Linked DNA regions of Homo sapiens. The protein of the gene in region 1 interacts with the protein of each later gene in a biochemical or structural test. Each region holds a gene or a part of one and is shown on either strand. Other genes may lie near its edges.

Evidence for each region.
Region 2: of the proteins of FAM20C (region 1) and F5, one has a biochemical effect on the other in vitro, tested with the Homo sapiens proteins (one large-scale study listed by IntAct).
Region 3: of the proteins of FAM20C (region 1) and PENK, one has a biochemical effect on the other in vitro, tested with the Homo sapiens proteins (one large-scale study listed by IntAct).

What each region holds. Positions count from the first base shown.
Region 1 is NC_000007.14:258,554-261,405, reverse strand, and holds the end of FAM20C (extracellular serine/threonine protein kinase FAM20C precursor), read right to left. Parts: intron 2,761-2,852; coding exon 2,701-2,760; intron 1,676-2,700; coding exon 1,426-1,675; 3' UTR 634-1,425; downstream 1-633. UniProt on the Homo sapiens protein: Golgi serine/threonine protein kinase that phosphorylates secretory pathway proteins within Ser-x-Glu/pSer motifs and plays a key role in biomineralization of bones and teeth.
Region 2 is NC_000001.11:169,584,328-169,588,077, forward strand, and holds the start of F5 (coagulation factor V preproprotein), read right to left. Parts: upstream 2,155-3,750; 5' UTR 2,060-2,154; coding exon 1,902-2,059; intron 1-1,901. UniProt on the Homo sapiens protein: Central regulator of hemostasis. It serves as a critical cofactor for the prothrombinase activity of factor Xa that results in the activation of prothrombin to thrombin.
Region 3 is NC_000008.11:56,444,527-56,448,276, forward strand, and holds the start of PENK (proenkephalin-A preproprotein), read right to left. Parts: upstream 2,116-3,750; 5' UTR 2,043-2,115; intron 1,975-2,042; exon of another isoform or gene 1,956-1,974; 5' UTR 1,900-1,955; exon of another isoform or gene 1,431-1,899; 5' UTR 1,428-1,430; coding exon 1,290-1,427; exon of another isoform or gene 1,281-1,289; intron 1-1,280.

The DNA.
Region 1 (2,852 bases):
CCGCTGCACCCAGCCTGGCACAGCTCAAATGGGTGTCAGGGACTTTGTGGAACGGACAGGTGAGTGGATGCAGAGGCTCTTAGAAGAGGGGGCCACAGTGACCGGCCCCACAGCTGATTTCTTAGGGCTCCTGGGCCGTGTGACGCTGGGCAGGTGGTAGCCAGCATGCTGGCTCCTGCCTCTGCCCCTCACATGGTGCCAGCAGGGGAGATGCTGGCCTGGGAGCCCAGCCCCATCTCTGCAGCCCCGAGGCCAGCAGTGGGAAGGGGCTGGCACCCTTCACGGTGCCCCTCACTCACCACAGCCCCGGGGCAGCTGCCCCACGCATGGCTGCCCAGTCCTGCTGGAACACTGGAAGCTGCCCATGCCAGGGCTACAGACAGGGGCTGCCCTCGGGGCCGCCGCAGCTTTGGGTCGCGGCCCCAGCCTCTGAGAGCAACCCAGGACGGACCGCCCTGCCTTGGAGGTGGGGCCCCACCTGGCCTGTTTGCACCAGGGCTTGGCAGGCAGCCCCCTCCGACCCCAGCAGGCCTCGGGTCCAGGCCACCTTGAATGCCGACTCCTGGCCATGCCTGGTTCCAGGACTGGTTTTTCTTTGGAGAGGGGGTGGACAGGCAGCCACACACCAGGGTGTGAGGGACCCGCCCCGTGAGGCCGACACACATCTGCTGTACCTTTATTGCACTTTTATGACATTGCAAACTATTCCACAAAACTCTGCAAAGGTCAGCCCACAGCTGCGCACAGCCAGCCCTGCAGGATGCACTTGCACCAACCGTCCACAGCCAAGTCCGAGGTGGGTGCTGCAGGCCAGCGGGCGGACTCGCAGGACGCCTGGTCATCGGGTCCTCCAAAACCACGTAGGCATCCGTCCACCAGCGCACAGGCCAGACGTCCAGCGAGAGCCTCCTCCCGTCCTCAGACGAGACCCTCCAGCCCTCCAGGAGCCGAGGCCCCAGGAAGGAGAAAGGGTTTTTACTTGAATTAGGTCCCGAGTGTGAGAGCACTTGAGGGGTGAGCTTGGCCTTGAGGGGCCCCCAGAACCAGGGAGGGCGGTCCTCGTGTTTGGTTTGGTAGGTGATTGGCATCTGTGTACACGTCTCTGTTTATATACTTATTCATCAAATATAAATACAAAATAGTAAATAAAGGCTCCTTTCCCTACAGAAAGGATGGAATGCCTCCGGCGCCGGCCGCCTCTGTCCGTGAGCACAGACAGCGCTTCCTTCCCAAGCTTTTCTGGTCAAACACTGACAAAATGTGTCCTATGAGACCTGGGGAGCCTCGCCTCCTGTGGCAGCAGCTCCCGACTCCGGATGATCCCGTCCTGCCTCTGAATTCACTGAATTCACGACGGGCGCATGCGCTTGCTGGGAGGTCCGGCGCCTCTGTCTCCGTCCCGGGCAGCGCAGCGGCCGGCGGACACTACCTCGCCGAGGCGGCTCTGTGCTCAGTGTCCAGGTCGTCATCCACCACGCTGTGGAGCCCGTTCCTCTCCACGCAGTCCCGGACGGCCTTTAGCACGACGCGGAGCCGCCGGTCCAGGGCCTCCAGGTGCGGCTGGTACAGCACGGGTGCCACCTGGTCCCCCCGCAGAGACTCGGCCATCAGCAGGCTCAGCTTGTACTCCTCCTTGGCCAGGAGCTGCAGACGCAGGTAGGTGGACTTCCGGATCCTGGGGAGGAGAGGGGCATCAGGCCTGGCACGGGACAGGGGAGATGCCTGCCCACGGGAAAGCGAGAGAAAGTGAGAGGGAGATCGAGAGAGTGGGGGGAGAGACAGAGAGAGAAAGAGGGGGACAGAGACAGAGAGAAAAAGACAGAGACATACACAGAGAAAGAGAGACACAGAGAGAAAGAGAGGGAGAGAGAAAGGCAGACAGACAGAGACAGACAGACAGAAAGAGACACAGATAAAGAGAAACAGGCAGACCGAGACAGAGAGAGAGACAGAGACAGACACAGATAGAGACGGCAGAGACGAGAGAGACCGCGAGAGAGGGGCCTGCGATCCAACACCTCATCAGCCTCCGGGCTGTGTGACCTGCTTCGGCGTGGTCTGCCGCCTCTCACCTGCACAAGGGATGAGGGTGCCCTTGCAGGATGTGGTGGCCGGTGTATTTCCCAGAGGGGCCCGGCAGGAGGATGGGGAGGTGAGGAGGGCGGCCCGCTCACCCAGGAGGATGGGGAGGTGAGGAGGGCGGCCCACTCACCCAGGAGACCGACCCCAGCTCAGCACATCCGCACAACACGGGCGCTGTGATGCCTCCTTAGAGAAGTACAAAGCGTTTGCCCTGCAAGCCTGCGTCCCCAGCCATGAAACGGGGGAAAGGGGGTCTGAACCCCCGCAGAAGGTGGCAGTGGCAGAGACCGGCAGCTGCGTGCGGGAGCAGGGTCCCTGTGTCTCAGCTGGCGTCTGCCCTGGCCTCGAGCTCTCTCTGTAACTGGGGTGGCAGGACGGACACAGAGTGGAGGCCCGAGGGGGCTCGAGCTGGATGGGCCTGGGGTGGTGGGCGGGTGAGGTCTGCGCCTCCAGGCCGCCGAGTGAGGGTGTGGGTTGAATTCAGGGCTGTGGTTGAATTCGGGGCCTTTTCTCTCCCATGTGATGGCCGGGGTGGGGTGGGGAAGGCTGTGGCCTCCTCTGTCTCCTGCGCAGTAGGGAGGAGGGTGGAGCTGGAGCCGGCTCCGGCAGGGGCTGTACCTGCAGCACTGCTGTAGCGGCACCAGGATGGAGAGCTCGTCGTGCGAATACTTCCCAAACCTTCCAGAAGAAAAGCAGAATTGTCAAGGGCCCCTGTACAAGGTTCCTAACAGGCTGCTGGGCTGGGAGCTGGGCCATGGGTCCACCTGCCT
Region 2 (3,750 bases), on another chromosome or scaffold:
CGAGTTTTTCATTTATAAGGATTGTTTAAAGATGATTTGTTCATAATCACAAAATCATATAAAGCTAGAACCCTAGAAGGAAAATGTATGTATATCTTTTCTTCAATATCTCTTTGTATACATGTGAGTGACTAAACAAGTTTTCTAAGGAAATTTTTGAAAGTGTTCACCTTAGACTTGGAGCAAGAATAATAGATACATTTTACCTTTAAAAGGCATTGTCCTGCTAATATTATATGAAATAAGTAGATAGATGTCTGCTTTGTGCTAAAATACACTTTGCCAAAAGATGGAGTTGGCTATGTTGATATTCACCTAGTGAGTATCATAGCTCTAGGGGCAGGACAAGTTAGAACAAGTTCTTAGTTTAAGCAGCCAGATATATGGATTAGATTTTTCATAAGAAAATGCTAGAGAGAAATGATATGATTTAGGGTTAAACAATATGACAGTTTGTCTGGGTTGTGTTTCTATGGTTTTGACTCAACAATTCCTACCAGAGGAACGAATCTCCAGAACTTTGGAAACTTACCCACAGGATGAGGGGACAGAATGACCAGTCATGGTTCCCTGTGTACTCACCATGTGAATCAGACCTTTGCCCTATCTGGTTCTGCCTCCGGTATTTTGCTTGTTATTTTCAACGCTAACTACAGACAAGAGAAAAAACTCCCAAGCATGAACCCAGCATGCTACAAGAAAGCCAACAACCAAGTCTGCATTCTACTCATGAGCAGGCAAGATTAGTGTTAGAAGGACTGTTATTTTCCTTGGGGTTTTAGCTTACGGCAGTTCCCAAAGGGTGTGGGTGTGACCTAGATTATCACTTTGAAGTACGATATTTAAAATGATTATTTTTGAGAAGGAGGGATCTCTTCTTATTATAAGACCAAGATGGTATGTAATACCCTCCAAAATAACCCAGTTACAATGAGAGTTTTAAAAAGGTTAATATTATACACTAAAAGATCTCAAAATATTACATTATTTTTTGGCAGATTACTTTGGTTTTGTAATTGTAAAAGAGGAACACATCTTTCATAATGAAGTGTGATGTAAGGAAAAAAAGTGAGTCACACTAGCAGGTTTACCATTTAAAAAATAACTAACTGGAAATATTGAATAGACTGTATGATTTAGTTAATTTCTGAGAAGTCTTATTTTTAACATTTCAATTAGAAAAAATAGTTTGCAACTCAAGGATAGTATTTTATCTGAATTAAACCTCCTCTCAGTTACATATGCCTTTAAGTAGCCAAGGTAAACCATATCCCAGGACATGATGAACAGAGAGAAAAAAAAATGAAGAGTCACATTCAATAGGATAAATAAGTCAAATATGAAGCAGAAAAAAGGTGAAAGTACAAAAACATACAAGAACTGATGATATTTTGAAAGTCATTTATAAGGCAGCAATAAAATTATATGACAAAAAGCACAAGGTGTTCATTTTTAGTTTTAGAAGATGAAGCTATGTAGACAATGGAATAAATAATATGTAACTAGGAGTCTCATAAAAATACTATACAACTAAAAATCTGGAACAGGAGTTTGCAGGAAGGGCTAATGAGGGAGCAAGTGCCTGGTGCCTTTGAATTAACCAATATATAAGCCAACACAAACATACTAACAAAACTGTATTGAAAATAAACTTGAAAAGAAGGTAGCATCTAACCAATCAAATAGGGTGCTTTCTAAACCCTCAGAATGATAAACTACATTGTTGGATGCAAAATTAGCATTTGCCCAGTTTATTTAATTCAGTATACTCTCCTATTAGTTATATTTACTTACCTGAAGTTAAAAAAAAAAAAAGCCATGACATTGCAAAGGGAATGTTCTCTAAAAGAAATAGATTTTCCTCTCTAGAGAAGCCCACCCGGACTCCACACCTGAGTTACCTTGAGTTTGTGGGCTCAGGTCGGTAGCTCCAACTGATGCCCTGAGCAGCCACGTAGAACTGCCTTAGCTGTGCCGCTTCTGTCCCTTGGCTCCCCCAGCCTACCCAGCTGGTGCCCAAGACCACCAGGACCCAGAGGCGTGGGCAGCCTGGGAACATGCTTCCTTTCCTGCTCCCGCTGGCTGCCACCACCCCAGGACCTGGGCAGCGCTTGCCGAGCTGCTAACCACACTCCGGGCTGTCCCAGCTGCAATGAGCTCTAGAGGCTGTGGGTGGCAGCGTCCTCCTCCCCTGCAGTTCTTGCAAACGGCAGCAGCAGCCTCTGGCTCTCACTCCCTCCGCTTTTTCTGGGGCTTTTCCTGGCAGGGGTTTGGTGAGATCACAGCTCCCAGTGACCAGAGGTATTAGGGAGAGCAACCAAACTAGTGACTGTTTTACTGCAGGTGAAGAAGGGGCAGAGATCAGAGGCTCTAGCAGGCGGGACAATGCCCAGGGATTCATGAGCCGGACAAAGCTGTATCCCTCCATTTCCACCTGCCAACACCACGGAAGCAGTCGTCCGTTACCACTGACCTGAGGCCTGCCTGGGTCCAAGCTCACACTTGGAGAACCTTCTGTGCAGTGCAGTGGCACCCAACCACCTTAAGCAGATGGCTCCCCTTTTAATCTGAGGAAAAGAGTATTGTGCCCTGTTACTGGGCACTGAAACACTATTTTCAAGTGGTGAAGAAGCAGGGAACAAACACATGGACAAGGCCTACTGCTCTGAATCGCCTTCCTGGCCTCTATCAAGGCACAGTTCTGCCTTGATAAGGGCCTGTCGCCAGCTAAGCTGCAGCATAGCAGCGGGCTTGAAGAGCTTGGCTGAAAAAAATCAGTTGTCCAGATTTCAGTTTCACTTACTAGCTGTGTTGTCTTGGGCAAGTTACTGTACCTCTCTGTTCAGTTTTGACATCTGTGAAATAAGGATGACAATAATAATTTTTCCTGATAGGGTATGTTGGGAGGATAAAATGCTACTGTAAACTATAGTTCCAGCACTTAACACACAGAGGCTAGGCGCAGTGGCTCACGCCTGTAATCCCAGTACTTTGGGAGGCCAAGGCGGGTGAATCACCTGAGGTCAGGAGTTCAAGACCAGCCTGGCCAACATGGTGAAACCCTTCTCTACTAAAAATATAAAAAATTAGCCGGGCGTTGTGGTGGACACCTGTAATCCCACCTACTCGAGAGATTGAGGCAAGAGAATTGCTTGAACCTGGAAGGTGGAGTTTGCAGTGAGCTGATATCATGCCATTTTACTCCAGCCTGGGCAACGAGAGCAAAACTCCATCAAAAAAAAAAAAGAAAGAAAGAAAAAGAAAGAAAGAGAAAAAGAGAGAAAGAAGGAATCACAAATTTATTATTATGATCATATTTTCCTGTCTCCAGGACCCCTTGTATTCTTGTTTTTCTTGAAGGATCTGACTGTTTCACAGCACCTTAAATCTTACTTTGCTATTGATAGAGAATCTGCGAATTATATTGTCTGAGGCATCATAATGACTTGTCCTGGGTTCCCTGTATCTGCATGGCTCCAGGTTTCTGTCTTATGCTTTATGCATTCAGTACATTCAATAAATTGTAATCTGGCACCTCACATGAGGTCTCTGTTAATGATATCAGGCTCATCAACAGCCTCTTCCTCCCTCCCCACTCCCCCCAATATTCTGTCTTTTCTCCTGTGCTGATATTATTGCACCAACTTAGAATGCCCATTTTCTTCCTCTTTGCTGGGCCATTCTTTACAGTCCAGAGTTCTGCCTATCTCCCAGATTCTGGGCTCAAATTGGCTTTTCCATTTTATGAAC
Region 3 (3,750 bases), on another chromosome or scaffold:
TGGCTCAATTTTTAGGCATAGGTTAAAAGCTCATGACTACAGGAGAAAGAAGAAAGATGGGTGAAGGGGATTGTTTCTCCTATTGAAGATGAAACATTTTTCTCATAGTTTAAATATACAACCTTCCTATGTGTCTTCTCTTTAATGCCAAGTTAGCACAGGTCAAAGAAACAAACATTTAACCTGAAATATATACCACAGATATTTGGAAACTGTTCCTTGGTTTTCTCCCCATTTCAAACATCTACATAAGGTAAAATTTCCTCAATTCCAGGTGGAACCCAAAGCAGCTTGGATGAATACATTATTCTCTATGAGCTTTTTAAGTCACCATAAAATTTCAACAAATTTCAAAAGCAATGCAAAGGAATTGTCAGGGGAGCTGGTAAAAGTGAAGCTACCTGAGTCTCGAGGTTGGAGATTCAGACTCAGTAGAGCACCAGAGGTGATTCGACAGCCCATGGGGAACCATGATCAGAATGAAAGTTATTTTGTCCTCAGCTTTTTCTTTCCCCAACCCCCTGTAGTGCAGTGTATCTTTGGACTGTTGTCACCCATTGGACACTGGCCACTTCTCTTGTTCCTTTCTCATAGCCAAATTAAACTGTTGTTTTAGTTACTATTACAAAGGGCAGTTGAAACAGAAGTTGAATTCCAGCATCACTGGCTAGTGAGACAGTTTGAACTCTTTCCTGTCTACGGTTATTTCGCCTTCCTCTCCCCGTACCCCTTTTCCATCCCTTTGCTCTCTCCTATTTACAGGTGAGGGTAGGGAATGAGGGACCTGAGGTTAAGAGAGCTGGGGAACATAAATCTAAAGAAAGGCACCGAAATGTCACTAACAAAAAATTACATTATTTGTGGGAAAGATGGGAAGATGACTGCGTGTGGAGGGGCCCTTAGCTGGGATATGTTAGGAGTTGTGGTGACAGCCATCTTCCTTCTGACAGCCCAGGAGAGAACCCAGTGCTATCCGAGGTGCTGAACAGAGGACTTCTCGGGGTTCCCGAATTCCCAGGGTTAAAACAAACTTGGTTTGTGCGGCGACACCGCTACCCTTACCGGTCCCCAGATAGTCGCGGATCCCCGAAGCTAAGAGCCAGGGCAGGACTTCAGTCAGTGTTCCAGGAACAGCTGAGACACCCAGGTCACCACGGGCTCGCGCCGCTGCGGCTCCGACCCGGTGCGAACCGCCATACGCGCCGCGCGGTGGGCCGGAGGCAGTCCGCGTACTGTTGCGGAAACTCTGTCTCACAAGGTGCGCAACACTCGCCGCGCGCAACACTCACCAGGAAGTTGATGTCGGCCGGGCGCACTAGGCGGTAGCTGCACGTCGCGCAATCCTGGCTGCATTCGGCCCGCACGGTCGCCAGGAGCCCGGGGCCGAGCAACAGCAGCCAAGTGCAAAGTGTCAGGAACCGCGCCATGGACTGCGAGGAGAGAGGGACGCGTGCTTCGAGCCTGCCTGGGCGCAGAACGGGGTCCCTCGGCAGGACCCTCGCCGCGACAGCCTCAGCAGGGGATCGTCGAGCAAAAGCCCGCAGGAATGCTCCTTTCTGGGGCCCCGCCCTCCCGGCCGACAGCTTTTAGGTAGACGTGGAGGCGACTCAGATCGCCTCGCGGTTCCCGGGATGGCGCGGTCGCCCCCAACGCGAGGCTGCCTGGGGCACCCGGCTCTTTTCCTGGGCGTCCGCGGCCCAGGGCAAGATTCCGGAGAGAACGCCGCAGACCAGGGGCGAGAGAGCGGGAGCCGGGGGAGGCAGGACATTGACTGGGGTCACAAAGAAGAACCAGGGAACGCTGTTGGGGAACCCATGCAATGAAATGTGAAGGGAAAGAGGGCGGGCAGACGTCCCCAAACCCGCTCAGCAAAGACAAGCTTCGGGCAAATTCACTCACGTTGACGCTGTTCGGATGGAGCAGGCCAATTGGAAAAGCCGGGTTCAGACACGACTCTAGAGGGAAGAGAAGAAGGCAAGTGTGAGGAGGGCGGGCGTCGGGGAGAAGCGGGCCCGGGTGTGCTGGCGGACGTAGGGCCTCACCGTCGCGGTCCTCAGCGTCTCTGCGGGGTCACGGGCCAGGCTGCGGGGCTCTGAGCGCCTGCCTCGCCGTCCCGGGGCTTAACGGCTGCTGGAGCCACTTTATAATTAGCCCCAAACCGAAGGAGGCGCGCGCGCCCCAATCGCCGGCGGGCTGCAGCTGACGCAGGCCCTACGCCAGCCCCGCGCCGACGCCTTCGCGGGAGGGGTCGGTCCCCCAGCACCCGCGCGCCGCTCCCCCCGCCGAGCTCGGGTGGGGGCCACAGGGGGCGCTCGGTGGCTCCCCACACGGCCAGGTGACAAACCCAAGGCAGTTAGGAAGTTTGGGGAGAGTGAGATAGGATCAAGTTTCTCCGCATAAAGTCACTGAAATTGCACCGTGGGATGCGGGCTCCAGGGAGGGAAGCGAGGTGGGGGCGTTTGGAAGGATAGATGGACTGGCTTAGACTTCTGGAATGTGCTGGAGACCCAGCGGGCCGGTGAACCTGCCCCTTTCCCGCCTCCTCCCTGGGCCCCCTCGCGGGTCCCCGTGGGCACCAAGCACAGCCGTCCGGAATGTCGTCATTTATTGACCAACCTGTCCCCCACACTTGACTCCGAGTTCCTTACTGCAGCATCTAACAGCGTCAAGGTGCGCAGTTTAGGCGCTCAATTAATGGTTACAGGAACTGAACGATTGAAAGTTTCTGGGAATCTTAAAATCTCAGGACAGAATTTTCACCTTTCCAGTTAGAGACCCTTGGCCAAGCGTAGAAGCAGGTAAACCCTCAGGTTCCGGGACTGCGCGCTTTTCAGCCACTGTGGGAGAGGATCCGTGTTTAACCAGCTCCCCGGGGCTCCCAAGTCGAAGACCTACTGCCTTGAGAGCGCTGTCCAGGGTGTCCGGGGGTGTTGGATCAGTGAGAGGGGGGTGCCGGGGCGGGTGTAATGTCAGCGCGCCAGGAGTGTGGTGGGGAGGGAGGGATGAGGGACACCCTACCCGGGACGCCGGGGCTTGGAACCTCTTCTCCACCGGGAGGGGGCCGAGGGCACACTGTGGAGGCTGGTACTGTCCATTAAGACACGCTTTCCCGCTTCCTGGCTCTGCAAAAGATTGCTAAGCGGCAAGCTGCTTACATTGCCTGAGGCCTCAGTTTCCCTATTTGAAAAATAGGAACAGAGGTAATATGCCATTCATAAGGTTCTGGAGAGAATCAAATGAAATAGTGGACGAAATCTCTTAGCCTTGTGCCTGGCACTATAGCAAGCCCTCAAAACATCTTCTAACCATCCGTCATCCGTCCGTCCACCTTTCCATCTGTGACCATTGTCTGCTTACCTTATAGCTACCATCGATGTATCCAATCCACCTATGCATCTATGTCTCCTAGACCTAGGGGGAAACCATAAACAGTTCCTGGGAAAAGGTCCCAGAGGTTTCCAGGCCCTCTGCGCCCTCTGCAAAGGGCTGATTTCTACAGTCGCTAGGACCTGCAGCGGCGCTGCTCCCGCGGGGCTCCGGCCGCGCTGCATGTCCCATTATAGTCGCTAGAGGGCAGCGCTCTCCTGCGTAGGCTGGGCTTGCGGGGACTGGGGTCTCAGTTCTCCGCAGGCCTCAATGTGCGGGCTTGACACGCAGCCCTCGGATTAGCCCCGAAGCTGCACCCGAGCACCGCCTGCCTCCCGGCCGGGGCATCACGGTAGCAAGGTCGGGAAAGCAGAGCCCTGGAGT